Regions from separate parts of the Homo sapiens genome. Here regions 2, 3 and 4 are each reported to be linked to region 1. Evidence: microRNA targets listed by miRTarBase, many of them from high-throughput screens and not tested one by one. Region 1 holds a microRNA gene; each other region holds the end of a gene's coding sequence.
What was found. Region 1 holds the annotated microRNA hsa-miR-4507 (CUGGGUUGGGCUGGGCUGGG, at 3,646-3,665, shown strand). A microRNA usually pairs through its seed, bases 2 to 8, with sites in the 3' UTR of a target mRNA and lowers its output. Matches are read on the target gene's strand: a 7mer-m8 pairs with bases 2 to 8, a 7mer-A1 pairs with bases 2 to 7 and ends in A, and an 8mer does both.

Region 1 (8,005 bases):
TAGGTTAACTCGTTTTCTCTTTGTGATTAAGGAGAAACACTTTGATATTCTGATAGAGTGGCCTTCATTTTAGTATTTTTCAAGACCACTTTTCAACTACTCACTTTAGGATAAGTTTTAGGTAAAATGTGCATCATTATCCTGAATTATTTCAGTTAAGCATGTTAGTTGGTGGCATAAGAGAAAACTCAATCAGATAGTGCTGAAGACAGGACTGTGGAGACACCTTAGAAGGACAGATTCTGTTCCGAATCACCGATGCGGCGTCAGCAGGACTGGCCTAGCGGAGGCTCTGGGAGGGTGGCTGCCAGGCCCGGCCTGGGCTTTGGGTCTCCCCGGACTACCCAGAGCTGGGATGCGTGGCTTCTGCTGCCGGGCCGACTGGCTGCTCAGGCCCCAGCCCTTGTTAATGGACTTGGAGGAATGATTCCATGCCAAAGCTTTGCAAGGCTCGCAGTGACCAGGCGCCCGACATGGTAAGAGACAGGCAGCCGCCGCTGCTGCATTTGCTTCTCTTAAAACTTTGTATTTGACGTCTTATTTCCACTAGAAGGGGAACTGGTCTTAATTGCTTGATGAAGAGCAGGAGACTCATTTATGTGAGTCTTTTGAGTGACCATTGTCTGGGTCACTCCCATTTAACTTTCCCTAAAGCCCATTTGAAGGAGAGGTCGCACGAGCTGCTCCACAACCTCTGAATGGGGATGGCATGGGTAATGATGCTTGAGAACATACCAAGCCCCACTGGCATCGCCCTTGTCTAAGTCATTGACTGTAGGTCATCATCGCACCCTTGAAAGTAGCCCATGCCTTCCAAAGCGATTTATGGTAAATGGCAGAATTTTAAGTGGCAAATTCAGATAAAATGCATTTCTTGGTTGTTTCCAATGATGACTGTTATCTAGAGGGAATTTAAAGGCAGGGGTTTACTGCAGACTCAGAAGGGAGGGGATGCTCCGGGAAGGTGGAGGCTCTGAGCATCTCAATACCCTCCTCTTGGTGCAGAAGATATGCTGCCACTTCTAGAGCAAGGGGACCTGCTCATTTTTATCACAGCACAGGCTCCTAAATTCTTGGTCTCATTCTCAAGATGTTTTAATGACTTTAAAGCAGCAAAGAAATATTCCACCCAGGTAGTGGAGGGTGGTAATGATTGGTAATGCTTTGGAACCAAAACCCAGGTGGCGCTGGGGCAGGACTGCAGGGAACTGGGGTATCAAGTAGAGGGAGACAAAAGATGGAAGCCAGCCTGGCTGTGCAGGAACCCGGCAATGAGATGGCTTTAGCTGAGACAAGCAGGTCTGGTGGGCTGACCATTTCTGGCCATGACAACTCCATCCAGCTTTCAGAAATGGACTCAGATGGGCAAAACTGACCTAAGCTGACCTAGACTAAACAAGGCTGAACTGGGCTGAGCTGAGCTGAACTGGGCTGAGTTGAACTGGGTTGAGCTGAGCTGAGCTGAGCTGGGCTAAGTTGCACCAGGTGAGCTGAGCTGAGCTGGGCTTGGCTGCACTAAGCTGGGCTGAGCTGGGCTGAGCTGGGCAGGGCTGGGCTGAGCTGAGCTGGGCTGGGCTGAGCTGGGCTGGGCTGGGCTGGGCTGAGCGGGTCTGAGCGGGGCTGAGCTGAGCTAGGCTGGGCTGGGCTGAGCTGGGCTGAGCTGGGCTGAGCTGGGCTGAGCAAGGCTAGGCTGAGCTGGGCTGAGCTGAGCTGGGCTGAGCAAGGCTAGGCTGAGCTGAGCTGAGCTGGGCTGCGCTGAGCTGGGCTGGGCTGCGCTGAGCTGGGCTGGGCTGAGCTGGGCTAGGCTGGGCTGAGCTGGGCTGAGCTAGGCTGGGCTGGGCTGGGCTGAGCGGGGCTGAGCGGGGCTGAGCTGAGCTAGGCTGGGCTGAGCGGGGCTGAGCTGAGCTAGGCTGGGCTGGGCTGGGCTGAGCCAAGCTGAACCGGGTTGAGCGTGCTGTGCTGGGCTGAGCCAAGCTAGGCTGAGCTGAGCCAAGTTGAGCTTAGCTGGGCTGAGCTAACCTGGGCAGGGCTGAGCTGGGCTGAGCTAACCTGGACTGGGGCTGAGCTAACCTGGGCAGAGCTGAGCTGGGCTGAGCTAACCTGGGCTGGGGCTGAGCTAACCTGGGCTGGGCTCAGCTGAGCTGAGCTACGCTGGGCTGGGCTGGGCTGAGCCGAGCTGAACTGGGCTGAGCAGGCTGTGTCGGGCTGAGCCAAGCTGGGCCGAGCTCAGCAGAGCTGAGCCGAGCTGAGCTTAGCTGGGCTGAGCTAACCAGGGCTGGGCTGAGCTGGGCTGAGCTGAGCTGAGCTGAACTGGGCTGAACGGGCTGAGGCGAGCAGGGCCGAGCTGAGCAGAGCTAAGCCGAGGCTGGGCTGGGCTAACCTGGGCTGGGCCGAGCTGAGCAGAGCTAAGCCGAGGCTGGGCTGGGCTAACCTGGGCTGGGCTGAGCTGAGCTGGGTTGGGCAGGGCTGGGCTGGGCTGAGCTAAGCTGAACTAGGGTGAGCTGGGCCGAGCCAGGCTGGTTTGGGCTGAGTTGAGCTGACCTGGACTGGGGCTGAGCTAACCTGGGCTGGGCTCAGCTGAGCTGAGCTACGCTGGGCTGGGCTGGGCTGAGCCGAGCTGAACTGGGCTGAGCAGGTTGTATCAGGCTAAGCCAAGCTGGGCCAAGCTCAGCAGAGCCGAGCCGAGCTGAGCTTAGCTGGGCTGAGCTAACCAGGGCTGGGCTGAGCTGGGCTGAGCTGAGCTGAGCTGAACTGGGCTGAACGGGCTGAGGCGAGCAGGGCCGAGCTGAGCAGAGCTAAGCCGAGGCTGGGCTGGGCTAACCTGGGCTGGGCTGAGCTGAGCTGGGTTGGGCAAGGCTGGGCTGGGTTGAGTTGGGCTGAGCTAAGCTGAGCTAGGGTGAGCTGGGCTGAGCCAGGCTGGATTGGGCTGAGTTGAGCTGACCTCAACTGAGCTGACCTAGGCTGAGCTGAGCTGAGCTGAAGTAGGCTGTGCTGGGCTGAGCTGGGATGACCTGGGCTGGGCTGAGCTGATTTGGGCTGGGTTGAGCAGACCTGGGCTGAGCCGGGTTGAGCTGAGCTGAACCAGGATGAGCTGGGCTGAGCTGAGCTGGGCTGGGTGGTCCAGGCTGGGCTGACCTGGACCAGGCTGGGCCAGGTTGAGCTGGGCTAAGCCGAGCTGAGCTGAGCTGAGCTGGGATGATCTGGGCTGGGCTGGGCTGGGCTGAGCTGACCTGGGCTGGGCTGGGCTGAGCTGAGCTGAGCTGAGTTAAGCTGAGCTGAGCTGAACTGGGCTGTGCTGAGCTAGGCTGGGCTGGGCTGAGCTGGGCTGGGCTGGGCTGAGCCAGATTGTGCCTGGCTGAACTGAGCTGGGCTAAGCTGAGCTGGGCTGAGCTGGGCTGAGCTGAGCTGGGCTGAGTGGGGCGGGGCTGAGCTGAGCCGGACTGGGCTGGGCTGGGCTCAGCTGAGCTGAGCTGAACTGGGCTGGGCTGAACTGGGCTGGGCTGAGCTGAGCTGAACTGGGCTGGGCTGAACTGGGCTGGGCTGAGCTGAGCTTGGATGAGCTGGGCTGAACTGGGCTGGGTTGAGCTGGGCTGGGCTGAGTTGAGCCAGACTGATCTGGGCTGAGCCGAGCTGGGTTAAGCCGAGCTGGGTTGGGCTGGGCTGGGTTGGGCTGGGCTGAGCCGGACTGGGTTGGGCTGAGCTGAGCTGGACTGGGCTGAGCTGAGCTGGTCTGGGCTGGCTGAGCTGAGCTGTGTTGAGCCAAGCTAGGCTGGGCTGGGCTGAGCTGGGCTGAACTGGGCTGAGCGGAGCTGAGCTGAGCTGGGCTGGGTTGAGCAGAGCTGGGGGCTGAGCTGGGCTGGGCTGGGCTGAGTTAAGCTGGGCTGACCTGGGCTGAGTTAAGCTGGGCTGACCTGGGCTGAGCTAAGCTGGGTTGAGCCGATCCGGGCTGGGCTGGGCTGGGCTGAGCCAGGCTAGGTTGAGCTGGGCTGGGCTGGGCTCTGCTGTGCTGTGCTGAACAGGGCTGAGCTGAACTGAGCTGAGCTGGGCTGAGCTGGGCTCTGCTGTGCTGTGCTGAGCAGGGCTGAGCTGAACTGTGCTGAGCTGGGTTGAGCTAAGCTAGGCTGGGCTGGGCTGAGCTGGGATGAGCTGGGCTGGGCTGGGCTGGGCTCTGCTGTGCTGTGCTGAACAGGGCTGAGCTGAACTGAGCTGAGCTGGGCTGAGCTGAGCTCTGCTGTGCTGTGCTGAGCAGGGCTGAGCTGAACTGGGCTGAGCTGGGCTGAGCCGGGCTGAGTTGAGCAGAGCTGGGTTGAGCAGAGCTGGGCTGGGCTGGGCTGAGTTGAGCCAGGCTGACCTGGGCTGAGCCAAGCTGGGTTGAGCCAAACTGGGCTGGGCTGGGCTGAGCCAGGCTGGATTGAGCTGGGCTGGGCTGGGCTAAGCTGGGCTGTGCTGCACTGAGCTGGGCTGAGCTGGGTTGAACTGTGCTGAGCTGAGCTGGGCTGTGCTGAACTATGCTTAGCTGGGCTGGGCTATACTGGGCTTAGCTGGGCTGGGCTAAACTGGGCTTAGCTGGGCTGGGCTATACTGGGCTTAGCTGGGCTGGGCTATACTGGGCTTAGCTGGGCTGGGCTATACTGGGCTTAGCTGGGCTGGGCTGAGCTGAGATGGTCTTAGGTGGTCTGAGCTCAGCTAGGCTGGGCTGAGCTGGTCTGAGCTCATCTGAGTTGGGCTGAGCTGAGCTTGGCTTTGCTGAGCTGGGGTGGGGTGGGCTGGGCTGGATTGAGCTGGCCTGGGCTGGGATGAACTGGATTGAGCTGGCCTGGGCTGGGATGAACTGGAGGACATGGCACTGGGCCAATCTTCATGATCTTGTTGGACATAGATGGATAGCCTCAGCTGAGTCTACACTGCGTTCCCCATCACACTCACCCTCCCTATACTCACTCCCAGGCCTGGGTTGTCTGCCTGGGGAGACTTCAGGGTAGCTGGAGTGTGACTGAGCTGGGGGCAGCAGAAGCTGGGCTGGAGGGACTCTATTGGCTGCCTGCGGGGTGTGTGGCTCCAGGCTTCACATTCAGGTATGCAACCTGGGCCCTCCAGCTGCATGTGCTGGGAGCTGAGTGTGTGCAGCACCTACGTGCTGATGCCTCGGGGGAAAGCAGGCCTGGTCCACCCAAACCTGAGCCCTCAGCCATTCTGAGCAGGGAGCCAGGGGCAGTCAGGCCTCAGAGTGCAGCAGGGCAGCCAGCTGAATGGTGGCAGGGATGGCTCAGCCTGCTCCAGGAGACCCCAGGTCTGTCCAGGTGTTCAGTGCTGGGCCCTGCAGCAGGATGGGCTGAGGCCTGCAGCCCCAGCAGCCTTGGACAAAGACCTGAGGCCTCACCACGGCCCCGCCACCCCTGATAGCCATGACAGTCTGGGCTTTGGAGGCCTGCAGGTGGGCTCGGCCTTGGTGGGGCAGCCACAGCGGGACGCAAGTAGTGAGGGCACTCAGAACGCCACTCAGCCCCGACAGGCAGGGCACGAGGAGGCAGCTCCTCACCCTCCCTTTCTCTTTTGTCCTGCGGGTCCTCAGGGAGTGCATCCGCCCCAACCCTTTTCCCCCTCGTCTCCTGTGAGAATTCCCCGTCGGATACGAGCAGCGTGGCCGTTGGCTGCCTCGCACAGGACTTCCTTCCCGACTCCATCACTTTCTCCTGGAAATACAAGAACAACTCTGACATCAGCAGCACCCGGGGCTTCCCATCAGTCCTGAGAGGGGGCAAGTACGCAGCCACCTCACAGGTGCTGCTGCCTTCCAAGGACGTCATGCAGGGCACAGACGAACACGTGGTGTGCAAAGTCCAGCACCCCAACGGCAACAAAGAAAAGAACGTGCCTCTTCCAGGTGAGGGCCGGGCCCAGCCACCGGGACAGAGAGGGAGCCGAAGGGGGCGGGAGTGGCGGGCACCGGGCTGACACGTGTCCCTCACTGCAGTGATTGCTGAGCTGCCTCCCAAAGTGAGCGTCTTCGTCCCACCCCGCGACGGCTTCTTCGGCAACCCCCGCAAGTCCAAGCTCATCTGCCAGGCCACGGGTTTCAGTCCCCGGCAGATTCAGGTGTCCTGGCTGCGCGAGGGGAAGCAGGTGGGGTCTGGCGTCACCACGGACCAGGTGCAGGCTGAGGCCAAAGAGTCTGGGCCCACGACCTACAAGGTGACCAGCACACTGACCATCAAAGAGAGCGACTGGCTCGGCCAGAGCATGTTCACCTGCCGCGTGGATCACAGGGGCCTGACCTTCCAGCAGAATGCGTCCTCCATGTGTGTCCCCGGTGAGTGACCTGTCCCCAGGGGCAGCACCCACCGACACACAGGGGTCCACTCGGGTCTGGCATTCGCCACCCCGGATGCAGCCATCTACTCCCTGAGCCTTGGCTTCCCAGAGCGGCCAAGGGCAGGGGCTCGGGCGGCAGGACCCCTGGGCTCGGCAGAGGCAGTTGCTACTCTTTGGGTGGGAACCATGCCTCCGCCCACATCCACACCTGCCCCACCTCTGACTCCCTTCTCTTGACTCCAGATCAAGACACAGCCATCCGGGTCTTCGCCATCCCCCCATCCTTTGCCAGCATCTTCCTCACCAAGTCCACCAAGTTGACCTGCCTGGTCACAGACCTGACCACCTATGACAGCGTGACCATCTCCTGGACCCGCCAGAATGGCGAAGCTGTGAAAACCCACACCAACATCTCCGAGAGCCACCCCAATGCCACTTTCAGCGCCGTGGGTGAGGCCAGCATCTGCGAGGATGACTGGAATTCCGGGGAGAGGTTCACGTGCACCGTGACCCACACAGACCTGCCCTCGCCACTGAAGCAGACCATCTCCCGGCCCAAGGGTAGGCCCCACTCTTGCCCCTCTTCCTGCACTCCCTGGGACCTCCCTTGGCCTCTGGGGCATGGTGGAAAGCACCCCTCACTCCCCCGTTGTCTGGGCAACTGGGGAAAAGGGGACTCAACCCCAGCCCACAGGCTGGTCCCCCCACTGCCCCGCCCTCACCACCATCTCTGTTCACAGGGGTGGCCCTGCACAGGCCCGATGTCTACTTGCTGCCACCAGCCCGGGAGCAGCTGAACCTGCGGGAGTCGGCCACCATCACGTGCCTGGTGACGGGCTTCTCTCCCGCGGACGTCTTCGTGCAGTGGATGCAGAGGGGGCAGCCCTTGTCCCCGGAGAAGTATGTGACCAGCGCCCCAATGCCTGAGCCCCAGGCCCCAGGCCGGTACTTCGCCCACAGCATCCTGACCGTGTCCGAAGAGGAATGGAACACGGGGGAGACCTACACCTGCGTGGTGGCCCATGAGGCCCTGCCCAACAGGGTCACCGAGAGGACCGTGGACAAGTCCACCGGTAAACCCACCCTGTACAACGTGTCCCTGGTCATGTCCGACACAGCTGGCACCTGCTACTGACCCTGCTGGCCTGCCCACAGGCTCGGGGCGGCTGGCCGCTCTGTGTGTGCATGCAAACTAACCGTGTCAACGGGGTGAGATGTTGCATCTTATAAAATTAGAAATAAAAAGATCCATTCAAAAGATACTGGTCCTGAGTGCACGATGCTCTGGCCTACTGGGGCGGCGGCTGTGCTGCACCCACCCTGCGCCTCCCCTGCAGAACACCTTCCTCCACAGCCCCCACCCCTGCCTCACCCACCTGCGTGCCTCAGTGGCTTCTAGAAACCCCTGAATTCCCTGCAGCTGCTCACAGCAGGCTGACCTCAGACTTGCCATTCCTCCTACTGCTTCCAGAAAGAAAGCTGAAAGCAAGGCCACACGTATACAGGCAGCACACAGGCATGTGTGGATACACATGGACAGACACGGACACACACAAACACATGGACACACAGAGACGTGCTAACCCATGGGCACACACATACACAGACATGGACCCACACACAAACATATGTGGACACACATGTACAAACATGCACAGGCACACAAAGAGAACACTGACTACAGGCACACACA
Region 2 (5,367 bases), not on the chromosome of region 1:
TATTCCAGTTCCAGGCAGGTGACTGTATGACCTCAGGCATATTTGTACTTAACTCTCAGAGTCTTGATTTTATTGTTTACTATGAGGATAAGCATACCAACCTTACTTGGCTTTTGCAAAATTCAGATGAGACAATACATGTGAAGGTGGCTAGAACGTAATAGGCATTCAACAAATGTTGATCCCTTTTTTTTCTCAAAGTGGCTCTCATTCTGATCCACAAAAGGGCAAGTTAAAAGGGTTGAATCCTACCAGGCTCACAAGGTTAAATAATTTCTGATGTATACTGATGTAATCCATATATGCAATGTTACTTTTTCAGTCATATGTAACTTCTCAAGTTACACAGGTTACATGGCATTATTCATTGTATTTAGTTCAGTAAGTAGGCGGGAGAGAAAACTGTTGTATTTTCAGGATAAATGCTTTATGTATGCTAAAATTTAGAGGTCCAAACACTACTACAACTAAATGTTCTTTTACAAGGTTGATAATTACTTTGAAATTAAAGTAAAACTAAAATGCCTTACACTTTTTCTTCCAGCATGCTACAAGTGAAAACTGATGAGAAACTGAATGTGTCTGATGAGAATACAGCAAGTTGCCCTTTGAGCCCCATTAAGATGTGCCTTAATCGTCCCATTGAATGGAATCTGAATTTGACAACAGCATCTCTAACGAGCTGTACAGTTCATAACCAAAATCTCAAAAGCGAAGAGAAATAGATTGCAGTTCTTCTTGCACTATCTTTATTTTGTATGTCAGTATTCCTTCTGAACAATAAGCATTTATCAATTGATCTTGAAGTATTTCTAGTCCTGTGATTTGTCTTTATATTAAATCATTAGCATTAATCATTTTGATTATATTCTTTATATGTTTTTTTTACATGTTTTACATCAGATCATTGTGGAATTTTGTAAACGGATTTTGATGTTTCTCTTTTAGTGGTATTATGTGAATTTTTTATGCCCTAAGTTTAAATACGTAATTGTCCCTAGTTTTATTTCTGTGCACAAAGTTTTAATATATAACACATTGTGATTTATAAAGCTAGTATTGTAAAGATTTGTGATGATAACCTGACCCATGAGCAGTTGTAAAACAGGTGGATACCAACTACCTCGAAGCAAATTGGTGAAAGAAAAGGCAAAGGTATCTCTTAGAAGTAAATCTCCTTCAACGTTATATATGTACAGAAGAAAAAAAGTTGATCATAGCTTTTTGTCAAGTAGCATGTTTCCCATTCACAGGAAAATGTGAGCTTATCAGTTCTTTCTCTGTATTTTAAATCTAAGTCTGTGGGCTTTAAGAGCAATGGCACAATTGCATGTTTACTGTTCAGCAAATCTGTGCCTCTTGATAGAGAAAAATACTATGTGGTTTCTGTAAGTTACCAGTTTTGAATGAAAAATGGTAAATGGATTTACATCTGTTTTATTGTACCTTAGCCTTTTATTTTAAAGTTAAAGGGATGACTTTTAAAAGCAGGACATTCCCTACCTTTAATAGTGCAAAGCACAGTTTCAGCAATGGCTACATGACTATGTCTAAAAACTGAATACTCAGAATACTAAAGGTTTGGTGCTTAAATTTATTTTTCCCATGCCAGAGAAAGCAAGCTTTGGTATGGTAAACCACATGAGAACATGGCTCCTTTCTTTTTGGATAGCCTGGCCATGTGTGAATGGGATTTTAGCTTATTATGTTTCTAAGACTTTTCCTTACAGCACACTTAATGTACCTTTTCAGTCCTTCTCCCAACCCCCTGCAAATTGTCTTTAAAACAACAACACATAAGGAATCTGAAGCACAGGAGAACACAGAGCCAACAAACAGAATGAAGAACAATCATCTATTTTTAACTGACTTTCTATCATTACCATTTTTCCTTTTGCTTAATAACTATCTTGCTTTGAAACTTTGACTCCTTTTATAAGTTCTATGAGGCACATATGTATAGCAATTTGGTTCTAAAAACCAGTGATCTTACTTTAGCTCCATCTTAAAATTTCACCTTAAGTAAATGGCCTCTAGTAGATGATAAGCCTAAAAAAAGCACAATTATTAAAACAAACAGATCCATGTTAGGACATTTCTGAATAATAAAGAGAAAAGGTGTTTCGTTGGGTATTGCAGAAAAGAGGACCAATTTCATATAGTACAAGTTTCGTAAGTCAGGCCAAGTGTCAATTTCAAAAGACAAGAAATGAAATTGACAGTGAATAGTGCTCATAAATTGGTAGCGTATATAAAGAGAAGTTCCTGTCACATTATATTCCCACTAGAATTATTATCCACAGTAAATAAATATTATTTTGTTATGCCAAAAATATAGCGAGCAGCTTCATGGTTAATAATACATTTATGTTGACACCTCCCTAATCCAGGAAACATTCACAAACAAGGACTCCCATATACAAATACTTTAGGAAGAGAGATTTCCCAGGCAGATATCACCAAAAATGTTTTCACTGTAGGAATCACAAAATAAGTTTTTGTCAAAATAACTGTTGTTGAACGTTATACTGGTCTTCCTCACTGGTGATTGATAAGCTCCTTTCTAGCCAGTTTGTGGTACTTCCTTCATTTTCCCTAGAAATGTTACTTGTTAAATGTGTCCTCAGGCGGTTTCATCTTTGTTGATTCTGCCCATCTAAGTCATAAGCTTCTCAAATGCAAGCTACTAGCTAGTTACACTTGTAAGTTTTCCATAATGACATGATTTTAAACATAAAGAGTTCATAAGAATCACTTGGAGAGACTATTTAAAAATGAGATTCCTAGGCCCACCTCAGATTGTGATAAATCTGTGTGACTGACTGATGCACACTTTTTCTGGACTATAATAACTGATGCTGCTCTACTGCTTTAATACAGGCCAAAGTAACGTGGAAGCGCACAGCAGAAAATCTTCAGAAAGACATCAGGTTTGTTCTGATTTTGACAAGGGTAACTTCTTCTTTATTAAAGCAAATAACTGGACATAATCTTAAAGGATTCCACCTCCATCGTCTTTCCTAACTTAGATCTTCATTGAGAAATTGGGCAAGGTTAAGTTTACTTTTTTCTAGTGCTGCGGTTTTGGCTCGTCTTGGTAGTCTCATCTTCATTTCTGATTCTGGTTCTGGAACTTCATGATCACTAAATAGATGTTGAAAATACACGAATTTAGATACAAGCTTTAAAACCAGTTTATTTATAAATAAAACTTTTTTGTTTCTGACTCACATTCTATCAGTGTTTAATTGATAGCCTGATTCCATTGACTTAGCTTAAAACTAAAATCTCAATGTCAAAAAAACACTGACTTGGCTATCTAGCAAAGTGAATCAGGGAAAATCTAGCTAATGATTTTATATACTATAACAGAACCTGGTGTTATACAGGAAAAAAAGCCACAAACTTGTAATGAAGCTTGTAATTAAACGAGGACCATAACTGTCCAAAAGAGATTTCTTTGAAACTCAAGAAGTGACAAAAAAATTAAGTTCTCTCTCTTGATTTAAGCAATAAATTCCAAAAACATAGTAAAAAACAAGTTTCCCCCCAAAAAAGACAAATTTAATCAACAGTGTAAAACTATGTACTGAAAATACACACAATACAATTTTGCAAATGAATACAAGACAGCTACCAACTTTCAGCTCTAACAGTGGCTTGACTGACAGAAGCCAAAAATAAAACACTCTACCACACAATATACCCAAATTATAGACAGAATTATTCTATCAGTATGTAAGTGTAGAGAACCCAAATATTATCAAAATCAAGAGTTTGCTAACTGAAGATCAAAGAGGAGTCACATCATGTAATTAAAAATTGAAACAACATATTAAAGATAGTACTAAAGACCATGCCAGCTAATAGGCAAAAGCAAACACGCCGTAAGAAGTCAAATGCTCTTGATGATGGAATTTTAGACTATATACCTAAGACAGCTATTTATAGTTTTCACTATCTTGTTATATATTCTCTCTCATTCGCAAGAAAATTAGTTTTTTTCTACTTGTAGAAATAAAAAGTGAAGATAGGCCTCCATATATTCTAGACATGCATGACATACCTTTCAGAGTCGGCTTCAGCAGTCTGACACCTCCTGTTCGTCCTAGCTGAAACTGTCACTTTTCTCTGTCCTTGAAGATAGTATAATTCATTATCAGGATTTATTATCAGTTGCTTTTTGTTTTTAATCTAGTTTCTAGGCTAACTAAATCCTTTGTCTTCAACACAACAATCCTTTCAACACATGTATCTCCTACTTGTTCTAGCCATCTTGGTACCAGTTATCACTGCCACAGAAAAAGGAACCCAAGCAAGATTAAAACTTAATTTATTTTGTAAGCACTAATAATGAGTAAGGGAAAATAAGGAAATTTCAAGCAAGTTAAAAGAAGGCAAATTTTAGTTCAATGTATTTGAGGACAGTATATGAAAAATGTGTTATAATGAAGTACCTCTATTATTGCTATAGCACAAAGTCTGTGGAGACTCATGAAAATTAAGGGTTAGAAAGGTAGGTTAGGTGCATAAACAGGTGCTAAAGAAACAACTTTTTTTTTTCTTGGAAGGTGATAAAACATAGTAAGGTAATAATGGCTTCTTGTAAAATAACATACATGACCAATTCAAATGTGTTCTAAAATATATTTCAATGTAAAAACTAGAACCTTTATATACTGGGGATTATAAGATTCTACTTACTAGAAATTTACAAGGTTAAGGAGTAAGACAAAGTTTGGCTTGTGATGTTTCTCATTTATAAGGAATAAAACAATATGAATATATGAAGTTTGGTCTATTAAAAAGGATGGTGTTCTCATGGTGTGATATACCACAAAAAAAATCTGATCAAAACCAAACTGTTCAATGTGACAGTCTGAAAATTATATACTCTACTTCATTCATGTTACACTTTTTTCTACTCCTTACCTGCTTTTACTAATGCATTTATCCCCAAGAAAACATCCAACAATATGGGACTAATTTGGAACAATATCCAGCAATTGGTATTTAAATAATTTACTGGTTACAAAACAATATTATGACCAGACTCCATTTTAGAAAAAATTAAATCTGCATCGAAAAGGGCCTTAAAAAATAGATTTCTAAAATCAAAATCATGGTTGGCTCATGGGTGGGATTATTAGTGTTCCTTATAGTAGTTTGTCTGGATGTACTTTCTGATTCTTCTGTAATAAGCATGCATTGCTTTTGTAATGAGGAAATAATAAAACAATAAAAAGATCTTGAATTTCAGATTTTTTTCCAAGTGACCCCCTAATAGTCAGCATTTACTTTGCCAACAGATCCCCTATTGTTGGATAGCCCTTGGGAAATAAGTTGGGAAAATATGAAATAAGATGG
Region 3 (7,069 bases), not on the chromosome of region 1:
GGTGGCGCACACCTGTAGTCCCAGCTACTCGGCAGGCTGAAGCAGGAGAGAGTCACTTGAACCCGGGAAACGGGTTGCAGTGAGCCAAGATCATGCCACTGCACTCCAGCCTGGGCGACAGAGCCAGAGACTCCGTCTCAAAAAAAAAAAAAAATTCTCCTTTTTTAGCTGCTAAGCTATGGATGTTCTGTCCCTAGGAGGTGAGTACCTGAGAAGTGTCTACCAGAGGAGTGAACTCACCCTTTCTTCCTCCTCAGGGACCTCAACTGTGCCCCAATCCTGGTGGGCATCACTGGCCACCTAACTCCCAGTGCCTACCCTCTCCTGAGCCTGGGCAGTCGGGGAGGGGGCTCACCAGTGTCACTGGAGGTCGTGATGCCTGGGTCGCTGTGGGACCGTGGCAGCAGCAGCGGTGGTGGGGATGCCGGATGAGGAGGCCGGTGCCCCGGTGGGGTGAGGGAACCTGAGCTATCGCTGAAGCGACGAGTCGGGGCTCGGGTGGGCGGGGCTGCGGCTGGGCGGCCCCCTCCCCGGGGGACCCGCCGCCTCAGCTCGGGGAAGCAGGGTCCCACCCAGGGCGGCCAGCCCTCCAACCGGTGGCAGCTGCGGGCAGCTGTGGGGGCACCCAGTGGGGGTGGAGCTTCAGGGGCAGAGCAGGAATAGGAGCGGGCAGCCCGTGGGGGGCGCCGTGGCAGGGGGCTTTCCTCGAAGGGGCCCCGCAGGCCACAGTCCAGGCTGAGGCAGTAGCCGGCACGGCTGCGCTGGATGGAGCGAAAGAGAACGTAGTCCACGGAGCGCACGGAGCCCTGCAGCTCCAGCAGGCACGAGTCCTCCGACGGGCTAGAGCCCCCAGGGAGGTCACCAATGGCTGACAGCACCAGAGACCCGCTGTCCATGGACACTGTGGGCGGCAGGGGGCGCTGTGTAGCACCAGCCTGGCCTGGCCTAGCCCTGCCCAGGCAGTTCCTCTTCTCCCAAGCCCAGCCTCTAGGGGCCACTGTGCCTCCAGCTTTATCTCAGAGGAGAAAAATAAGTCCAGGGTTCCAAGTTGCCACAGCCCTCCTATGTCCCCAAACCACCAACTCCGCCTTGTTTTCCCCTTCTATTGTCTCTACCCACCCCAGCTATCCCTGGCAGCCCCGCCCTTGTCCACCCCTCATTACGCCCTGCTCACCGTCTACAATGGAGGCCACTCGTTCACAGATGCACGAGCCATCGTGAAGCTGAGGGTCAAAGAGAGTGGCCTGCAGAAGACACAGGGTCAAGGGTTCAGCCCTACACACTGAACACCCCCATGTGCTAGACAGAGCTCTGGAGACTTAGATTCCAGACCAGCCTTGTCCCTTTGTACAAGTCACTTAATTGTGCAGCCTCAGCTTCCACGTCTGTATGGCAGAAATGATAGCTTCCAACCCACTCACCTCACCAGGCTCTAGGGAAGATCAAAGGCAACAGTGGGCATGCTGGTGCTGTAAAGACCTTGACCACTGTTACTATCTTTATCCAGAGGCTACAGCCTGTTCAGCTTTCCAGGCTACAACCCGGCTCCCCAGCCCGCCCCAAGCCGTGCTGTGCTCTCACCTGGCTGTCTCCTCGTAGTCCCATGACTGCCTCATAAGAAGGGGGGCAATCGGTAGGGTACAAGGGCACTGGGCTGTCCATGGAGCCATTGTACGTGATGCTGGCAGATGAGGAAGAGGGTCAATGTAGGAGAAATAATTCCCCCTCCACAAAGATCCCTCTCTCCAGCAATCCAGGCCCAGCCCCAGTCCCCTTCCTTAGCTCCCCCAGCAAGACCCCACCAGGCCTTACCTCTGTGCATCTGTTTCTGAGCTGCAGGTATACTCTGGGGGATAGTAGGGCGGTGGGGGCACAGGCGGGACAAATTCCTCCAGGTCCAGCATGGTGTGTAGGAGAGGGGCTGGGGGCGGGGACGTGCAGCCCAGAGGTCCCAGTGGGCCTGAGACTGACCGCTCAGGGGCCAGCTGCTGGGGAAGCGAGCAGGTCAGCAAGTCTGGATTCTGGGAATACAGCTCCTCCTGGGCCCCCAAACTCCTCTCTCATCTACATTATTTTTTCTGGCCCTATCCCCTGAGAGAAGCTCTTGTTCTGGCCCCTCCCTCACCCAAAATCAGCTCTCCTTAACCCCACGCTCACCCTGTACCTCTAGCTCTGGCCCTGCCCACCCACAAATTCCTCTTTATGGCCCCACCTCCATCCAGAAGCTCCACACATTCTGTGTCTTCACAGGAATGTCCACCCTTTAGCCTCACCTCCATCTAGGACCTTCTTTTTTTTTTTGAGACAGAGTCTGACTCTGTTGCTGGAGTGCAGTGGCGCGATCTCAGCTCACTGCAACCCCCACCTCCCAAGATCAAGCAATTCCCATGCCTCATCCTCCTGAGTAGCTGGAATTATAAGGGTGTGCAACCATGCCCAGCTAATTATTATTATTATTATTATTTCGAGACGAAGTTTCACTCTTGTCGCCCAGGCTGGAGTACAATGGCTACATCTCAGCTCACTGCAACCTCTGCCTCCCAGGTTCAAGCGATTCTCCAGCCTCAGTCTTCCGAGTAGCTGGGATTACAGGCACCCGCCACCACACCCGGATAATTTTTGTATTTTTAGTAGAGATAGGGTTTCGCCATGTTGGCCAGGCTGGTGTCAAACTCCTGATATCTGGTGATCCTCCTGCCTTGGCCTCCCAAAGTGCTGGGATTACAGGCATGAGCCACGGAGCCCAGCCTAATTTTTGTAATTTTGTGTGTATATATATATATATATATATATATATATATATTTTTTTTTTTTTTTTTTTTTTTTTTGAGACGGAGTCTTGCTCTTGTCGCCCAGGCTGGAATGCAGTGGCACCATCTCAGCTCACTGCAGCCTCTGTCTCCCCGGTTCAAGCAATTTTCCTGCCTCAGACTCCCAAGTAGCTGGGATTACAGGCACCCGCCACCACACTTGGCTAATTTTTGTATTTCGTTTGTTTGTTTTTTGAGATGGAGTCTTGCTCTGTCGCCCAGGCTGGAGTGCAGTGGCACTATCTCAGCTCACTGCAAGCTCTGCCTCCCAGGTTCATGCCATTCTCCTGCCTCAGCCTCCCGAGTAGCTGGGACCACAGGCGCCCGCCACCACGCCTGGCTAATTTTTTGTATGTTTAGTAGAGATGGGGTTTCACCATGTTAGCCAGGATAGTCTCGATCTCCTGATCTCAGGTGATCTGCCCTCCTCAGCCTCCCAAAGTGCTGGGATTATAGGCACGAGCCACTGCGCCCGGCCCGATTTTTGTATTTTTAATAGAGACAGGGTTTCGCCATGTTGGCCAGGTGGGTCTTGAACTCCTGGCCTCAGGTGATCCGCCTGCCTGGGCCTCTCAAAGTGCTGGGATTACAGGAATGAGCCACCGTGCCCAGCATAGGACCTTCTTGACTCTACCCCACCATCCAGTCCCATTCTCTAAAGCACCCTCTCCTGGTCCCAGACCAGCATCACATACTTAACTCACTCCCTGCCATCTCCCCTTCTCATCCTCCCCACTAAACATCCATTCCTCCAATAGATGAGGATAATAGATAACCCATAGCCCCTGGTGCTCAAAAGCCAGATCTGTAGCCATTGTTCCCTCAGGCAAGTCTCAGCACACACACCCCTGCCCCCACCATACCTGCGTGCCCTGGCCCCTGCTCCCTTCTCACCGTATGCACGAGGTCCAGGGAGAAGATTTGGATGCAGCAGACAATAGCAGAGAGTGTACAGATTATAGCGGCACAAATGGTGAGCCCACAGACGCTGAAGAGCAGGTTCTGGGGAAGGGAAAGGAGGAGAGGAGTCAGGAGACGGCTAAGTTCCACACATTATGGGCCTGTGAGTACCCCAGCAGGGGAGGCAAGAGTGAGAACCAGGAGGATGTTTGCAGGGTGCAAGCTCACCTTGAGGGCCCCTCGGGCTTCATCACAGGTGGAGTTAGGGGCAACTTTCAGTTCCTGCCCCGACTCTGGACAGGGCCGGAGGAGGGGAACAGAGGGACAGCACACACAGACCTTTCCTTCCTGAGTGGAGCAGGGAGGGTGAGGCAGCCTGAGTCAGGACAAACTGAGGTGTCCTGCACACCTCCCCCAGCCAGTTCTTTCCAGCTCTCCCTCCTCAAATCTCACCAGAGAGCACTGTTGGAAGTCTCGGGCCAGTTGAGCATTCTTACAGGAGAGAACAGAGCCAGCCATGCTAAGCATGACACAGAGCACCGAAAGCAAGGAGAAGAAGGAGATCTGGGGAAAACAGGGTGCAGACTCAGGGCTGGGACCCTCATGAGTACTCCTCTGCCACGGACAGAGTCCCCCTCCTTCACAGACACTTCGTGCCCACCCGGCTGGCACCAACTGGGGAGCCAGTTCCCTTCTTGAGGACATAAATGGGCTTCCCCTTGCGTGCTGGGCACCTGCCTCCCAGTGGGCACTGGACCCTGGCACCTACCACTAGAGTGAATGGCCGCTTCCAGGACACAATGCCAACCACCCCGGAGAACGCCAGCTGGGGACAGAGTGGGCACAGGCTCAGCCTGGCAGGGGAGGCTCCTGAGTGAGCCCCTCACCACAGGATGCACCCAGCCCTGTAAGGAGGCAGAGGACCAGGAGAGGGAGGAGAGGCAAGCATGTGGACTTGCAGCTGGTGTGGAGGGTGGGGCCCGAGGAGCCTCCCCCACCCAACAACTGTGCACCCAACTCACCGAGAACCCAGCCCAAGACGGGCAGGACCTCTTGATGCTCTCGGTGGTGGTGACGGAAGAGGCCACCATGCTGAAGGTGACCACCAGGATGCCCAGGAGCACTTGGACCAGCCCCAGCGTAAGCAGGGCCTGCAGCCAGGGTCGGTGGAGGCGGAGGTGGGTAAGGCCCCTGGTGCTGGGCCGGCTGGTCAGCGAGCGGCTGGAGTCACTAGGCGAGGGCATCATGCCTGCTGCCCGGTTGCCTGCGCCTCGCTCGGCCCTCCCTGGCACTTGGGAGCATCTCAGAGGCGCCCAAGGCCCCGTCCTTTCTCCTCTCCACCCCACTCGCTCTAGAGCCCACCCCCTGGCTGGGTCCCCTGGGGCATGGCCGAGGGACGCCAGCTGTGGGGGGGGCCAAGCGAGGGGCGTCACGGAGGGACCGCGGAGTGCTCCCTCCCCACCACGGGCACTGGACGGGCACCGTGCCCGGGGCGACGATGAGGACGCGGGGGCACCGGCTCATCGCATCTCCCTAGGGAAGAGGGGCACCGAGAAGGGCCGGTCCAGGAGTGAGGAGGGGGCGGCGGCCTGGAGCCCAGGGAGGGGTGGGGAGGGTAAAAGCGGGAAGGATGGAAATAAGTCTAGAGAAGAGGGGAGGGGTCGGCGTGGGGTGACTCTAGAGGCGCGGTCGGTGTGCCCTCAGGGCGTCCAGTAGGATCCGGGGCCGCCTGGTGGGGAGAGGCCGCGGCGCCGCTGTCTCCTGTGTCGCCTGTCCCGCTCCCCTCCCCACCACGCTCCGCTCCCCGAGCTCCGGCTGCCGCAGGTCGGGGACTAGAGAAGGGGGATGGGAATGGGGATGGTGCGGGAAGGAGGGGCATGGCGGCGAGGGCCGGCGCGGTGCACCCCGGGAGTTGTAGTTCGGGACTGAGACCCTGTCGGGGTTGGGGGATCCCGCGGCAGGGCGAGGCAGTCGGATAAGCGCTCCTCCAGTCCCTGCCTCGCTCTGGACCCTGGCTAGGCTGCTAGTGATCCTTTGGGCCTCCACTTGAGCCCCATCCAGCTTTTCAGGCTCCAGGCCCGCGTATTCCTTGGCGTTCCCGGCAGAGGCGGTGGCTCTTCCCCGTCATTAATGGAGAGGGGTGGGGAGCAGGGCTCCCTGGCGTCTCCGGGTTTCGCGTTTCCGTGGACTTCCCACCTCCTTCCTGCGCCAGCCACTCGGGCTCCACCGCCCCGCCCCTCATATCTCCCAGTTTACACTAAAGCCGGGTCCGACCTTCCCACCTCACTCCACACTCTCCTTTCTCTTTCATAAGGCCTAATTCCCAATGAAGATTCAGGAAACGGGGATGTCAGTTCCAGTTCCACTTTCTTTTTATTTAAATAACCGAAGCAACAGCCGTGGCACAGCAGAGGGAAGCTGGGTTGGGGCGTGTGAGAGGTGGCAGCAGTGTGGCCTGATGGGGGGACTAGGTCACAGTGAACTCCCCACACGCCTGTCAGGTTCAGCAGTCATGGCCATAGGATTGGGAGCACTACGGAGGAGCCATCAGTTAGTGATGTCTCTCCAAGTCCCAGAGACCTTAGGGACGGGAGCTAAGTCAGCTCCCTCAAGTAGCAGGGCCAGGGCATCCCAGTCAGGGGTCACGGGGCCCGGAAGGCATTTTCAGCAGCCCCAGCGGCTGCATTGGCAGCTGCGGTTCGCACCGCAGGGTTGGAGAAGACACCAGCAGCAAATTCTTGCTGGGCCTTCTGAAAGCTGGCACCTGTGCGGCGGTATAAGGAGTGGATCTGCAAGTAGAGGACAAAGACATTACCGCCCATTCCAGCCACTGGTTCCCCACCCCAGCCTAACAGCATCACTACCACTCAGCAGCCTGCTGCCCAGCACACACACTCACACACAGAAACACACACCCCAGAGGTCCATTAGCTGAGAACAACCCAGCAGCCTGACCTGTGCCAGTTGCTCCTGAATGTTCCACCCACGCCCCTGGGGACCCATGATCTCACCATCCCGGCCCCACCTTCGACACAGCCCTCACCCGTTTCAGCATGACAATTCCTAGCACAGCAATGCCAGTGAAGAGCAGGGCGACCAGCAGCATGAGCACGGATACTGCTGTGTTGCCCTTCGGCACCACCAGAGCAGAGATCCAGCCACTGTAAAGGGAAGGATGTACCAGTGAAGAGGGGCTCCTCAGCTTCTCCACTGGTTATGTCACCAGCATCCCCTGTTCCTACCCTTCCCATCAGCAGTGGCTCCCTGTCAATCGAGCAGCATTCCAAGCACCACAATCCCAAACTGTATCTAATCTCTTCATAGTTTAATTCCAGTTTCTGAACCATTAGCCCTGAGCT
Region 4 (8,005 bases), not on the chromosome of region 1:
ACCACCATGCCAGGCTAATTTTTTGTAGAGACAGGGTTTAGCTGTGTTGCCCAGGCTGGTCTCAAACTCCTGGGCTAAAGTGATCAGCCTGGCTCAGCCTCCCAAAGTGCTGGGATTGGAGGTGTGAGTCACCAGGCCCAGCCGGCAAACATTTTCTGTAAAAGTTCAAATAGGAAATATTTTAGATATGCTAGACATAGGGTCTGGTTTACACACTCTTCAGTTTTTCTTTTTTCTTACAAGGCTTAAAAACTGTAAAAAAAACTCTTCTTAGCTTAAGTGCTGTACAAAACAGGTAGCAAGACCCCTGTGTAAGAGAACGCTTGCATATGTACATAACGATCTTTACGGTAGCAGTGATGTGAGAGCAAGAAATTGGAAATAGCTTAAATGTTCATCAAGAGGACAGGGGAGGCTGGGCACAGTGGCTCACGCCTGTAATCCCAGCACTTTGGGAGGCCGAGGCGGGTGGATCACTTGAGGTCAGGAGTTCAAGACCAGCCTGGCCAACATGGTGAAACCCCGTTTCTACCAAAAACAAAAAATTAACCAGGCATGGTGGCACACACCTGTAATCCCAGCTACTTGGGTGGCTGAGGGGCTGAGGTGGGAGGATCACTTGAACCCCGGAGGCGGAGGTTGCAGTGAGCCAAGATCGTGACACTACACTCCAGCCTGGGAGACAGAGCAAGACTCCTCAAAAAAAATTAAACAAAACAAAACAAAAAAAAGATGAGGGCAGGGAATAGTGAAACCCTTGGACATCCTTTTCTGAAGCACGGAGTGAGCAGCAACTTAAGGAGGTGTGGACTGGGCAAGGTGTGTCATGCCTGTAATCCCAGTGCTTTGGTGCTTTGAGAAGCCAAGGCAGGAGGATCACTTGAGGTCAGGGAGTTTGAGACCAGCCTGGACAACATAGTGAGGCCCCATTTCTCTCTTTTTTTTTTTTTTTTTTTTGAGACAGAGTTTCATTCTTGTTTCCCAGGCTAGAGTTCAATGGCGCAATCTCGGCTCACTGCAACCTCCACCTCCTGGGTTCAAGCGATTCTCCTGCCTCAGCCTCCCAAGTAGCTGGGATTACAGGCATGCACCACCAAGCCCAGCTAATTTTTGCATTTTTTAGTAGAGATGGGGTTTCTCCATGTTGGTCAGGCTGGTCTCGAACTCCTGACCTCAGAAGATCTGCCCACCTGGGCCTCCCAAAGTGGTGGGATTACACGTGTGAGCCACTGCGCCTGGCCGAGACCCCATCTCTAAAAAAAAAAAAAAAATTAACTGGGTGTGGTATCATCCATCTGTGGTCCCAGCTACTTGGGAAGATGAGGTAGGAGGATTGCTTGAGCCCAGGAGTTCGAGGCTGTGGTGAGCGATGATTGCGCCATTATACTCCAGCTTGGGATACAGACTTAGACCTTGTCTCTTAAAAAAACGGGTGGCATGAAGTGTGTAAATGACGTGGGTGACATAGAATGAAAACATCCATTAAGTGGATAAAAAGTTGCCAGAGATACGAAGGGAATGAAAAAAATCAAGGAAACACCCAGAATACCATATATTAATACATGTAAAAAGTCCACTTTAAACTCATTGCAAGGGTTACCAGTGAGATAGAGAGTGTGGGGTTAATTTGGTGGTCACAGAGATCTTTTTTTTTTTTTGTAGAGACAAGGTTTTGCTATGTTGCCCATGCTGGTCTCGAATTCCTGGAATCAAGCTGCCTCGGCCTCCCAAAGTGCTGGGATTACAAGTGTGAGCCACCGCACTTGGGAGGTCTCAAGTCTGTCTTGAAAATGCCAAATTTGGCCGGACCTGGTGGCTGGCTCATGCCTGTAATCCCAACATTTTGGGAGGCCGAGTTGGGTGGATCACCTAAGGTCAGGAGTTCGAGACCAGCCTGACTAACATGGTGAAACCCTGTCTGTAGTAAATACAAAAAGTTAGCCTGGTGTGGTGGCACGTGCCTGTAATCCCAGCTACTTGGGAGGCTGAGGCAGGAGAATCACTTGAACCCAGGAGGCGGAGGTTGCAGTGAGCCGAGATTGCACCATTGCACTCCAGCCTGGGCAACAAGAGTGAAAACTCTGTCTCAAAAAAAAAAAAAAAAAGGGGGGAAATTTTATCCTGCTTCTAAGCCTTCATACTGATTGTTCCCTCTGCCTTAGAACACTCTTTGGGGTATTTGCGGAGCTGACTCTTCTCTGTCAGGTCTCTGCTCAACTGTCCCCTCCTCAGAGACCTTTCCTGATTCCCCTGTTTCAAAAGCCACCTCCCCCACCACGGAAAATTGAGTGGCTGAAGTGTGAGAGGGATAGAGAAAGACTTCATTGTATGCCATCTTGCACTCTTTGCATTTCAAACCAAGTGAATTTATTACCCATTCAAAACTACCTGAATTAAATAAATCAAAATTTTAAAAATTGGAAAAAGTAAAAAACCCGAAGTAGCTCCCCTAGTCATTTTCTCAACACATCCTCCTGTTTTATTTTCTTCGTGACACTTGTCAGTGTGCAAGATGACTTCATTTTTTTAGTATTAATTACAGACTGGGCGGGAGAATGGCATGAACCCGGGAGGCGGAGCTTGCAGTGAGCCGAGAGAGCACCCTTGCACTCCAGCCTGGGTGACAGAGCGAGACTCCGTCTCAAAAAAAAAAAAAAAAAAAAAAATTACAGATTGCATCTTGCTATGTTGCCCAGGCTGGTCTCGAACTCTTGGGCTCAAGTGATCCTCCCACCTCAGACTCCCCCAAGTGCTGAGATTACAGATGTGGACCACTGCGCCTGGCGAGATGACTTTATTTATTGATTCCCTTGTTTGCTGCGTCTCCTGACCAAGAGGTCAGCCCCACAGTGGCAAGGATCTTGGTGGGTCAGCCTGGTTCATGACTGTGAGGCTAAGACCTGGCACACAGCAGGTGCCCTGTAACGTATTTGCTAACAGACTAGGCAAAACATGTCTTCTTGTTTTTTACAAGAAAATGTATTTGGAATCACTTATGTAAATAAAGTTTAATAATCAAAACTCTACTTCCCCTCAAAAACAGATGAGTAATAAGAAGGAAAGAGGTTATTGGACTGGGTTATCTCTCAGAATCTGTTCGGCTCTGAATATTTCAAAAACATTTGGTTGGGTTTTTTTGTTTTTTTTTTTTTTTTTTTTTTTTTTCGATTTGGGCTTTTTTCTTTTTGGTCTGGATGTTGGTGGAATTTCCCCATTCGTAAGACTTTTCTGTGAGAGGGAAGTAAGAGAAGAAGAAATAAGCATTTTGGGTTCCTACATTGGCCTTCCTTCCTTCCGCTGGTACATGTAGTTGGGGAAAGGGTCGGTTTTCTTCTTTAGTTCTGTTGAGGCCCCAGAGAAGCAAAGGATCCCCAAAGGACAACAGCTGTCAGGCCTCCATGTCCAAGGCTGAGCCCAAATGCGTGGGGTTGGACTTCCCAGCCCCATCCTGCCCCTTCTGTAACACAAAATGTGGGAGAAGGTAATGAGAAATTCTGTCTTGTCTCCTGGCACCTCTTCCTTTTCCTTTGAGGGACCACCATATCCCATCTCACAATCCATTAAGGTTTGAATGGAGTGGACCCCAACCCCAAGTGCGACCCCAGCCTGGCCAATCAGACACAGTGACTGGTCAGCATGTGACCTGGTGTGGCCAATGAGAACCAGCCCCCAAAGACCACTGCTGCAACTCCGGGGAAATTGGCAAACTTTCTCCACTGGGGAGGACAGGCTGCTGGGGTGTAAGCCTGGAGCTGCAAGTCTCCGCTACCTTAGGAGGAGACCCTGAAAGGTAATGAAGCCAACTCGGAGAAAATAAAAAGAGACCATTCATGATGACATCATCTGACAACTAGATGCAGCCATGCCTTAAGACTCTAAACTCTTCAATTACATGGCCCAGTAAATTCCCTGTTTTGTTTTCCCAGCTTGAATTGGGCTTCCATCTCTCACGACTCAAAGAAAACTGACAAATACCTCCTTCAGCTACTGAGAAATTGTCAACAATCCTCCCTCATCAACATGATAATCACCAAACTCCCACCTCTGCCATGCAAAGGCCTTGGGGCTCTAAACCCAGCTTCCTCCCTCCCATTTCTTCCCTGATGCCACTCCATGCCTTGGTCCACCACTATACATCTTTGGATATCTCCAAATTCTCCTTAGCTATCTGGGCCCCATTACAGCTTCTCTTGTCTAAGACCTGGATCATACTCATGTATGTCCTGATGGTATCTGCTGTGCGTCTAGGCCTTAGAATTGGTCATTAGCATTCCCTGAATGTTTCCATCTTATTCTTGGATGTGGGAAGCACTTGGGCTGATGGGGCACTGCAGAGCGTTGCCGGCTCACATTTCTTGGAGGGGAATCACAGTCTCTTCTCTGCATCTGCGTCTCCCTCCTCATGCCTTGCACAATGCTTCAGGGCTGGGAGTAGGAATGTATTAATATAGCAAGCTGGCTGGGTTGCAGTGGCTCCCGCCTGTAATCCCAGCACTTTGGGAGGCCAAAGCAGGAGGATCCCTTGAGCCCAGGAGTTTGAGACCAGCCTGGGCAACATAGTGAGACCCAGTCTAAAAAAAAAGAGAGAGAGAAAAGAAAGGAAGGAAGAAAAGAAAAAAAGAGAAAGAAAGAAGAGAAAAGAGGAATAAAATATATCAGGCAAATCCCTTATCCTCACTGGCTTCAATTTCCCTGTCACTAAGAGGGGTGGGCGGGGGGGCGTCCCCTCCTAAGAGAAACACTGGAGAACACAGGATCCTTACCTCTCCGCACTCTTCTGAGACCTGGCAGATCTGAGAATAAACTTCAGCAATGACAGTGGCCCTGGAGAGCACAGGAAGGCCCTCAGGAGGGGACTCTCCTCCTTCCACCCCACCCTCATTCCACCCCACCCTTCCTCACCCCAACTCACTTGCAGTCCAGCCCTCCCCCAGGAGGTAAATCTGGGATGTCCTCTGAGGCCAGAGTCCTGAAAACTGTGTTCAGGCTGGGGGGCTTCTGAGCAGAGGCACACAGTTCTGAGAAAGAGTCAAGAGTTAGGCTGGGCACAGTGGCGCACGCCTGTAATCCCAGCACTTTGGGAGACCAAGGCGGGCGGATCACTTGAGGCCAGGGGTTCGAGACCAGCCTGGACAACATCGTGAAACCCCGTCTATACTAACAATACAAAAATTAGCTGGGTGTGATTGTGCATGCCTGTAATCCCAGCTACTCAGGAGGCTGAGGCAGGAGAATCGCTTGAACCCGGAAGGCAGAGGTTGCAGTGAGCCAAGATCACGCCACTGCACTCCAGCCTAGGAGACAGAGCAAGACTCCATCTCAAAAAAAAAAAGAAAAAAAGAAAAAGTTATGGCACAGCCTTCACTGGCCAACCACCCCTCCAGCTGGGCCCCCAGAGTCTGCTCACCAGCGATTCTGCAGCCCAGGGCTGCGTCCAGTGCTAGCTCCCTCCTGATCGCCTCCTCAGAAGGCCTAGGGGCCCCAGGGAAGCAGACCAGGATGCAGGTCATGTTGTCCAGGCTGCCCTGAAGCCGGTGGAGAAAAAGGAGCCCGGTGGGGGAGAGTCCAAGGCAGAGCTTCCCAACAATCCCCAGGTTCAAGTCCCCCACTTCATTCTACTTATGCCCATTTCTTTCGCGTCCCACCCACCTGCCAATCCTCTCTTACTGGGACCAAACCCGGTCCTAGGCGCTCCCAATTGAGAGAACAATGCCTTTTCCCTAAAGCTCCGCCCGCTCTGATGTTTACCTGCTCTTCCACCTTCCAGCACTAATCAATACTTCCGGCCCGGCTCCTACGACCCAGAATCGCCCCTTTCCAAAAGACCACGCCCTTTCTCTTAAGTCCCTTCCACTAACTCTCCCGTGCCTCAAAGCATCCCTCAGGCTCCGCCCCTGTATTTTGGCCCTGCCCACTTCAGGCCACGCCCTTCGCTTGAGTCCTATCCCCTCCTTTGCTAGCTTTACTCTTGCCTCTCTATCAAAGCCCTCCTCCCCAAAACCCCGAGGCTCTCTCCCTCTGCTGCACCAAGCCCCAAAGGTACCACGCCACGCCCCCAGGACCTTGCACAGACACGTGTCCAACAGCTGCGCGCAGAGAAGCTCTGGGGCCAGGCCCAAGCGGAGGCGTGAAGCCACCAGTCCCGCCAGGGCAGCACCAGACACAGTGTCCCAGACGCCATCAGAGGCCAGGAGCATGAACTCGTCCTCAGCCTGGCGTGCCAGTGCGGCCACCTCTGGCTCCGCAGAAACGAGCTGTAGCTCGGGGGGCCTCCCCGGAGCCTCCTTGTAGGTAAAGTCGCCCAACGCTCGCGACACGGCCAGAGAGCCCTCGACGCGGCGGCGGCGGATGGTGCCGCCAGCGGCGTGGATGCGCTCGCGTTCCCGGGGTCGAAGGGGCCGGTGGTCCTCTGTGCTGAAGGCCACGGCGCCAGCGCGGCTCAGCACCGCGCGGGAGTCACCGCAGTGCGCCAGGTACAGAAACCGCGGGGAGACCAGCAACACCACGGCCGTGCAGCCGCCCGTTTCCACGCGGGGCCAGAGGGAGCGCAGGCGCTCGTCGGCGCTCAAGAAGGCTCGGCGCAGCGCCTCGCGCACGCCCTCGGGCTCGCTAGGCTCCGGGCCCAGCTCCTGGAGCACATGGCCTGGCAAATGGCGTGCACCGAAGCGGGCAGCTCGAGCCCCACCGTGGCCGTCGAGGACGGCAAACAAGGCCCAGCCCGGGGGCAGACCAGGTAACGAAAGCCAAGTGCAGTGAGCATCCTCCATGCGCGCGCGCCAGCCTTGCGCTGCGCTCGCCCCGAAGCGCAGGCCCCCAGACGCCTCGGCACCCCCGTGCGGCCGCTGGGCGCGGCGCGGCGCTGTCAACAGAGACCGAGGCCCTTCGGGGGCCCTGCGCCCCGCCTCCTCCTCCTCCTCTTCCTCCCTCCCCTCCTTCTCCCTCTCCTTTTTCTTGCAAGCGGTCCAGAGGAGACGCTGCAGCTGGCGGGCCAGGACCGCCATCCTTCAGCCCTGGGATCAGGAAGGCTCCACCCTGTACACCTGCCCGCCCCCTCCATTAATCCCCTCCGCTGTGAGATTTTAAACCATCTAAATCTCCTTCCTGTCCTTTGACCTGCTCTTTAGGCGGGTCACTAGAAGGAATTACACTTCTGGGTCTCCTGTTTCCTGCACCTACAAAGCGGGGTTTGGGATCTGAATCAGGAAAAAAAAAGAAAAAAGATAATACTGTACCAGTGGCAAACTATTACATAGTACTAATGTGTCACACACTGTTATACATCATCATCTCCAGTTTACATATGGAAGAAGAAACAGAGTCACAGAAGTAACCGGTGTTCCAGGGAAACTAATTCTAGAATCTGTGTTCTCAACACAACACTCAGTCCAAGCTCCTCCCACCTCAGTGGTACAGCCCCCAGCCTCAAAACCTGTAAATACCATACTTGGCCGGGCGCGGTGGCTCACGCCTATAACCCCAGCACTTAGGGAGGCCGAGGCAGGCGGATCGCTTAAGCCCAGGAGTTTGAGACCAGCCTGGGAAACATAGCGAGACCCCGTCTCTACAAAAATTAACATTTAGCCAGGCGCGGTGGAACACACCTGTGATCCCAGCTACTCAGGAGGCTTAGGTGGGAGGATCACCTGAGCCCGGGAGGTCGAGGCTGCAGTGAGCCGTGATCGTATCACTGCACTCCAGCCTGGGCAACAGAGCGAGACCCTGTCTCAAAAAGATATATATATATATATATATATATATATATATATATATATATACATATTTTTTTTTTCTTTACTGTTTTTAGTTCGACCCCTCCCCTCTGGGGCTTCGCTTATTTTCTCTTCCAGGCCCCGCCCATCCAGGATTCAGGCACACAGCTCCAGACCCTTCTAATTTTCGCAGACCTGGAATCGCCTGGAATCCGACCCCACCCAGTTATATTTGAATAATTCCCTGTTGCTTTAGCCCTGCCCACGTTTGAGCTCCTCCGCGTGCCCCAAAAGTT

Region 2: the mRNA of LCORL is a reported target of hsa-miR-4507. Seed matches in the 3' UTR shown: 7mer-A1 at 3,751-3,757 and 7mer-A1 at 4,309-4,315.
Region 3: miRTarBase lists SCAMP3 as a target of hsa-miR-4507. Seed matches in the 3' UTR shown: 7mer-m8 at 6,130-6,136.
Region 4: the mRNA of PPM1N is a reported target of hsa-miR-4507. Seed matches in the 3' UTR shown: 7mer-A1 at 3,266-3,272 and 7mer-A1 at 3,127-3,133.

What each region holds. Positions count from the first base shown.
Region 1 is chr14:105,853,785-105,861,789 of GRCh38, reverse strand. It overlaps MIR4507 (microRNA 4507), which reads left to right and starts at 3,615; the gene lies at 3,615-3,666. MIR4539 (microRNA 4539) reads left to right here and starts at 4,218; the gene lies at 4,218-4,277. MIR4538 (microRNA 4538) reads left to right here and starts at 3,548; the gene lies at 3,548-3,625. It overlaps MIR4537 (microRNA 4537), which reads left to right and starts at 2,237; the gene lies at 2,237-2,306. It also overlaps IGH and IGHM. RefSeq lists an enhancer at 1.
Region 2 is chr4:17,841,079-17,846,445 of GRCh38, reverse strand. LCORL (ligand dependent nuclear receptor corepressor like) reads left to right here. Exons shown (of 8, transcript NM_001394446.1): 8 at 545-5,259. The coding sequence ends at 558. It overlaps NCAPG (non-SMC condensin I complex subunit G), which reads right to left. Exons shown (of 21, transcript NM_022346.5): 20 at 4,067-4,136; 21 at 1,581-3,144. The coding sequence ends at 3,021. Among named protein-coding and RNA genes, the nearest start is that of NCAPG, 33 kb to the right of the region's middle.
Region 3 is chr1:155,249,921-155,256,989 of GRCh38, forward strand. SCAMP3 (secretory carrier membrane protein 3) reads right to left here. Exons shown (of 9, transcript NM_005698.4): 8 at 6,754-6,871; 9 at 6,061-6,499. The coding sequence ends at 6,353. It overlaps ENTREP3 (endosomal transmembrane epsin interactor 3), which reads right to left and starts at 5,563. Exons shown (of 12, transcript NM_006589.3): 1 at 4,733-5,563; 2 at 4,480-4,536; 3 at 4,164-4,274; 4 at 3,939-4,058; 5 at 3,705-3,812; 6 at 1,813-1,985; 7 at 1,582-1,681; 8 at 1,175-1,244; 9 at 356-901. The coding sequence starts at 4,957. RefSeq lists an enhancer at 1-597.
Region 4 is chr19:45,497,469-45,505,473 of GRCh38, reverse strand. It overlaps PPM1N (protein phosphatase, Mg2+/Mn2+ dependent 1N (putative)), which reads right to left and starts at 7,031. Exons shown (of 5, transcript NM_001080401.2): 1 at 6,063-7,031; 2 at 5,408-5,525; 3 at 4,913-5,018; 4 at 4,764-4,824; 5 at 2,961-3,457. The coding sequence starts at 7,001. The coding sequence ends at 3,389. LOC107985314 (a long non-coding RNA gene) reads left to right here. Exons shown (of 2, transcript XR_007067269.1): 2 at 3,927-4,664. RefSeq lists a silencer at 6,734-6,803.